2 linked regions of the Homo sapiens genome follow. The protein of the gene in region 1 purifies or fractionates together with the protein of each later gene. This does not show direct contact. Each region holds a gene or a part of one and is shown on either strand. Other genes may lie near its edges.

Region 1 (3,500 bases):
TCTAAGGAAGTGCTCTTTGTACTGTCTCCTATTTATGTGGAACAGGAACATGTAATGAGAAGAGTTTCCCCTTGCTGTATGTCAAGGTTTCCTGCTGTTCAATATAGTCTAAGGGTTGATATTCAATATACATTGTATATTCAAATCATCATTCTGCTACTAATGTAGGCATAGGAATGACTGGATGCCAGAATTCTAATGAAGAACAAATTCAGCTAACTGGTAATTCATTAATTGAAATCTAGGATTAACTGATGTTTTATGTATATACATTTACTTTCATCAGAAATAAAATAATAAAAACATTGATACTAGGGATTATATGTTAAAATGTATATGGAGATGGATGAATAAAGGCCTTCCCTTATGAAAAAAAAGGTATATGGAAGATTGGAGTTAGTCTGCATTACTGTTTATTAAATAGTTTACTCTTCTTAAAATTAATTCTTAATTTGATCAAAGGAATAAGTGAAAAGATAGCATAAATGGTAGTTCCCTGCCCCGTATCCTCCTCCTAGGGTTAACTACTTTTAACTCTCTCAGCATTTTCTTCTTTTTGTTTTTAAATAATAATAAATGGAAAAGTCTTGATTTTATCAATTTTATAAAAAATTGGGGAGTTATTTCTGGAATTAAAAATTCATTTTTATTTTCATTTGCTTCATTTTCTTTGAACTTAAGATTAAATCTTTCTTCATCCTTTGTCATCTCTACAGTCTGTCAGTTCTATTTTGTTCCCAGAGATCTTCCTGTATTTCATTATTGATTGCAAAAGAACCCCTATACTGTCTAACAAATAATTGGTTTGTCAGCATGAAGGCTACTTGGCAAAGTATGAGTTTCTGAAGACTAACTACTCCCTCCTGGTTTTCTTCCTCTCCCAAATGGCTTTATGATTTGGAGACTGAAGTGTTCCTGCCTTCATATCTGATCTTTTTTTTTTTTTTTTCTGTCTTACTGGTTTGACTGAAGAAAAGATTAATAATTGAATAAGGTCATTTCTACCCTTTGGCGAAAGTAAGGTTCTTTTTGTTTTAACATAGCGTCTCAATAAAGTCTTACCAGCTATCTTGTGGCCTCTAGAACCTGTCTATAGCTCTCCAACACTGAAAACAGAGTTCCTATCTATGCCTGTAAAGCATTCACCTTCTGTCTGAAAGGCATCTGTGGGTGTCTGCTCATTTGCAGAGTGAAAATGACAGGTCCTTTAACAAATGGCAAAAGTTAAACTCCTTCTGGGTTCAGGTTGTTAGCTCTGCTTGCTTTCTGTTTAATAACTTTCCACACAGGGGTTTCCTCCTCTTTCTTACCCTTCAACTTACTGATTTTCTGTGAATCCTGTCTTTGCCACTTTATAATTCCAAACATCATTCATTCATTAAGCAAATGTTTATTGAGTGTTTACTATGTGCCAGGCACTCTTCTAGGTGCTGGGGATATAGGGATGAACAGCATACTCACACATATAGTCTAGGTAGGAAGACAAGGAAAAATACAAGTTTTTTCAAAATGTGGTAAATGCTGTGAAAAAATTGTAGGATAATATGATAAAAGTGATTGCTGCTAACGTAAAAAAGGTTAAGAAGGTTTGAGGAGGTAATGTTTGATTTGAGAATTGAATGAGCAGAAGCCAGCCATGTGTAGAGAAGAGGGGGAAAATAGTTCAGGCCAGAGGGAACAGTTGTATGAAGACACTGAGATGGAAAAGAGCCTGAAGTGAAGGCCTGCATGGCTGGACCATGGGGAGAGAGTGGTAGGTGATGAGATCAGAGAGAGACCAGAACCATGTCATGGAGGACCTTGTGGACCACAGTAAGGACTTTGGATTTTATTCTCTGTGCAGTGGGAAGCTATTGGAGGTTCTTAAACAGGGGACTGATATGGTCTGATTTGCATTTCAAAAGTTTACTCTGGGCGTTGTGGGGAATAGGGGACCAGTGCACTCACCAAAGTAGAGTATGTGGTTTAAAAAAAAATTTAATTGCGGCCGGTCGTGGTGGCTCATGCCTGTAAACCCAGGACTTTGGGAGGCCGAGGTGAGCGGATCACGAGGTCAGGAGATTGAGGTCATCCTGGCCAACATGGTGAAACCCCATCTCTACTAAAAATACAAAAATTAGCTGGGTATGGTGGCACGTGCCTGTAATCTCAGCTACTTGAGAGGCTGAGGCAGGAGGATCACTTGAATCCTGGAGTTGGAGGTTGCAGTGAGCCGAGATTGCACCACTGCAGTCCAGCCTGGCAACAGAGGGAGACGCCATCTCAAAAAAAAAAAAAAAAAAAATTAATGCCCACTACGGGAAGAGCAAGGATTCCCTTCAATGTTTTTTCCCCTGGGAATAAAATGTAGAGGTCACGGAAAGTATTTTTGATTATGGGGCATAATCTGGAACTATTTACCTGCTTCATGCTGACTTCTTGTGCATGATCCCAGATGATACCAACATTGGAGTACCCCACTGCTGAAAGGTCTCCATCTTTTAGGATAGAGAGATTTGCAAATACCCATGTCACATTTAGATTATCTGATGCTTCCATTTATATTTATAAACAAATTAAAGTGGATATAGAAGTTACTTGAAAGTGTAAAATGTTAGACAGTTATGGCATAGTATCACTTTTTTGCTATACTTGAGTTATTTAATTTTGGAAATTGCCCTCCCTAATTTACATTTTGCTTTTTTTTTTTTTTTTGAGACAGGGTCTCACTCTGTTGCCCAGGCTGGAGTGCAGTGGTGCAATCTTGGCTCACTGCAGCTTCCGCCTCTAGGGTTCAAGCAGCTCTCCTGCCTCAGCCTCCAAGTACCTGGGATTACAGGCAGACGCCACCATGCCCAGCTAATTTTTGTATTTTTAGTAGAGACGGTGTTTCACCATGTTGGCCAGGCTGGTCTTGAACCCCTGGCCTCAGGTGATTCACCCAACTCAGCCTCCCAAAGTGCTGGGATAATAGGAGTGAACCATCGCACCTGGCCCTCATTTTGCATCTATTTTAATGCTTCAATTACACTCCTTCAGAAAAGCTTTAAAAGATTCCTTTTATTAACAGTATTTAATGTTCCTCACTAGGGAACTCCAACTGGGGCACACAGCCTTGGAGACTCTTTATCATCCCAAGACTGCAGTAGAATTATGATTAGAAGAAGCAACTCTGGTTAAATTTTTTTTTTTTTCCGAGACAGAGTCTTGCTCTGTTGCCCAGGCTAGAGTGCAGTGGCACAATCTCGGCTCACTGCAACCTCTGCCTCCCAGGTTCAAGCGGTTCTCCTGCCTCAGCCTCCTGAGTAGCTGGGATTACAGGCATGCGCCACCACACCTGGCTAATTTTTGTATTGTATTAATGGATTAATTATTGTAATTTTGTATTTTTAGTAGAGACCGGGGTTAGTAGAGACCACCATGTTGGTCAGGCTGGTTTCGAATTCCTGATCTCATGATCCGCCCACCTTGGCCTCCCAAAGTGCTGGGATTACAGGCATGAGCCACCGTGCCTTGCCAAC
Region 2 (3,500 bases), on another chromosome or scaffold:
TAATAGGTCTTTTTTATACCTATAAACAAATTATATATAAATGTTGGTGGTACCAGAGCATTGAAAATAAAACTTGTTTGTGATAAACGTCATCACTGGTTCTCTATCCTGAAATGTAACTGAATCATAATAAAGTGCTATTCATCTGCAGGTGCATTGCTTCTACTTAGTTAAAAGATGGTTGAAAGGATAGGAATTAGTAGCATGTTGTATTAGCCTTTTGTAGTGTATTTTGTCCTAAGCATCTTAATTTCCCTGTTTTGAATGCTAAGTAGCAAGGGTCTTGGTTTAGAACTAATACCCATCATGCATGTAAACGGTATGAAAGAGCTGCTTAGTAAGTTAACACAAAGTGTTCTTGTGTCAGTCCTTGTGGAAATAGATACAATACAAACATTACAGCTGAACTCACGGCAAACTCCATTAAGTAAAAACCTGGCCTCATTGTTCAGGAAAAAGTTTGAATAGAATACAAGCTCATTTTGTTGAATGTAATGTCAGGCTTTTAGGGACTGTATTGAGGGATAAGGTTTTGTTAAGTTGAGACCAATTCATTAAGTTTTATTGCCTGGTGAGAAGCAGCAATACTTTATTGTAAGACTTCATCAAATATTCATGGTTAAAGAGAAGTAGTAAATGTATTCAATCAAGTGGTCTTTTGGGATTTTGAAAAGGATTATGAAGTCTGCTCAGCTGATAACATTGATAGAGGTTGTTTAACAAGGGTAATTTTAATCTCCGAGTTTAGTTTTGTTGTCCAGTCTTGTCTCTTTTTTACTGTCACAAATCCAGGTCTGTAAGAATTGTGTCACATTCTAAGGATAAAAGAATGATATATCCATTCATATAATTTATGTTATTTCCTAAATATGTATATTTTTAAGTTATCATCTTAGTTTGAGTTTGGCATATGAGGGAATTGTGACCCATCTAGTTGTGAGATTGCTATTCATTTGGTCAGACTCTAGTCTCATCTCACCACTGCTGGTGATCTTTTCATGTCTTGGATAATATGATTTCTTTGACACATATAAAATAATAAGCAACCTTTTGCCTTGGCCAGTTCAGACTGTCATGAAGGGGTATAGTCAGCTGTTTCTGCATAATGGAAATGTCCATAGCATTGCCCTTATTATTGTACTTGGTATCAGGTCACCTGCCTTCTCTTATTTACTTTTATATTATGCTCATCTCAGTTTTGTGTGATGCAGTTTGTGCACAGGAAGCTCATCCTTTTCCAATTCGCTGTGTGTTTACTTCTTTAGTTTTCAACCAAAGTTTTGTAATTTGTGTTGGTTTTGTCAGTTTTAAAGAAATAAACCATATTCAACTTAAAGTCGAATTTGTTATTAATTTTTTATATCCTTTATTCTTTAGGCAGATGATGTTGAGGGCAAAATTAGACAAATCATTCCACCTGGATTTTGCACAAACACGAATGATTTCCTTTCTTTACTGGAAAAGGAAGTTGATTTCAAGCCATTCGGAACCTTACTTCATACCTACTCAGTTCTCAGTCCAACAGGAGGAGAAAACTTTACCTTTCAGATATATAAGGTAAAGATAAATCTAAATATTTATTGAGTAAAGTTCTATTTGCCTGAAACCTGTATGTAGTTTTGTTGTCAGTGATTTATTCTAACTGCAGTAAACAAGTTTTAATCAGCATTATAAACCAAGATCTATTTTGTGTGTATGTCTGTATCTATGTTCACATCTTAATCTGAGACTTCTAAACATTTTCCCACAGGATAATTTTGTGTTCTGCGGACTTTCACTTACCTTTGTGATGAGTTTCACCTGACTTTTCCTGGCTTTTTCCCTAGGCTGACATGACATGTAGAGGCTTTCGAGAATATCATGAAAGGCTTCAGACCTTTTTGATGTGGTTTATTGAAACTGCTAGCTTTATTGACGTGGATGATGAAAGATGGCACTACTTTCTAGTGTAAGTACAGTTCTAAAGCAACAGTAGACCTTATTACCTCCACAAAGCCAGCATTTTAATTGTGGCAGCCCAATTATTGGGACAGTATAATGATATTTTTCCCAGGAAAGAAAAACTATTGTTTATGAGGCTTGAGTTTTCCTTCATTATGCTTTGGGAGACCTTGAGAATAGAGCTGAATTAAATGCTGTTGTCCGTTAGGGCCCTGAATGTAGGCTTAAACAGTAAAATGAGCTTTGCCTGTGTTTTCTTTTACTTGCCACCTATTCATCTTTATAATAGGCAAGTGCACTGAAGTGATGTAAAGAGGTCTGATTTATCCAAGTTGCTGCACACCAATTAAGTGAATTGTACATTCAGAACATAGCAGGTGTACCCATTGGGCCCTCACAGAGTAGCTTGCTGACACTGAAAATTCAGTCAGAGAATGGAAAAGAAAATGGACACTGCATGGGAGCGCGACTGTAATTGACCTGCTTGGCTTTCTGTTTTATCTGCAGATTTGAGAAGTATAATAAGGATGGAGCTACGCTCTTTGCGACCGTAGGCTACATGACAGTCTATAATTACTATGTGTACCCAGACAAAACCCGGCCACGTGTAAGGTAATTGGCAGTATAACACGTGCCTTGTCTTTTATTTCAGAAGAAGGAACTGCTGAAGTTTCCAATACTTGTTATAATAGTGTTGATTTGTTTAAAAAAAAAATCACTATTATTCATGGGCTATGTACTGATTTATTTCATTGTTCCCTTTGAAACAGTGTAGAAGATTAAACTAATTTTGAGTATCTTGATAATTTTTGGGTATCTCAAAGGTGGATTGAAAAAAAGATCACACAAACTTTAAAGTGTTTGTAATACTATAGTGATCTGCAGGTTTTAAACTGGTCATGTTATGATATTTTAATTTTAAAATAATTTCTTTACTGTAGTCAGATGCTGATTTTGACTCCATTTCAAGGTCAAGGCCATGGTGCTCAACTTCTTGAAACAGTTCATAGATACTACACTGAATTTCCTACAGTTCTTGATATTACAGGTATGTAAAATTTGATTTGTTACTGAAAGAGCCTTTCTAAAAATGTCTTCTTACTGATTGATTTTATTTTTGTCAGAAATAACTATTTTAAACAGCAACATTTTCCTAGGGTGTTTAAGCCATCTAAAGATGGCTTAAGTTTATGTTTTAGAGCATAAGCCTTTGTGGGGATTGGATTACATCCCTAACTGTGAAGTGCATAATGGAACAAATTGAAGATAATGAGCTGAATATATATGGGGAAGTCTTGGTCAGGCGTAAATACGTTGAAAGTATGGTATAACTTATTTGTTCACTTTATTTGGCAAACAGTTGCATTATTTAGAGGCAGCCTGCACTTTAATTTACATGTAGGGGCAGAATATTATAAACTTTACTGAGAAAAAAAGTCAAGGTAAATACTTCTTGAATAGAATACACATTTCCTAAAGTGTGTGTTTTGTATTCCTAAAATGCATGCCTTCACAACAGTAGTAGATAAGGTGAAATGTAGGCCTATTTGTTTTGGAAA

Evidence for each region. Proteins that work in one complex are often made in the same cells at the same time.
Region 2: the proteins of UBN2 (region 1) and HAT1 purify together in Homo sapiens (affinity purification with mass spectrometry, with the first as the bait; one large-scale study listed by BioGRID). This does not show direct contact.

What each region holds. Positions count from the first base shown.
Region 1 is NC_000007.14:139,286,737-139,290,236, forward strand, and holds part of UBN2 (ubinuclein-2), read left to right. Parts: intron 1-3,500.
Region 2 is NC_000002.12:171,963,961-171,967,460, forward strand, and holds part of HAT1 (histone acetyltransferase type B catalytic subunit), read left to right. Parts: intron 1-1,377; coding exon 1,378-1,557; intron 1,558-1,826; coding exon 1,827-1,948; intron 1,949-2,448; coding exon 2,449-2,553; intron 2,554-2,882; coding exon 2,883-2,989; intron 2,990-3,500. UniProt on the Homo sapiens protein: Histone acetyltransferase that plays a role in different biological processes including cell cycle progression, glucose metabolism, histone production or DNA damage repair. Coordinates histone production and acetylation via H4 promoter binding.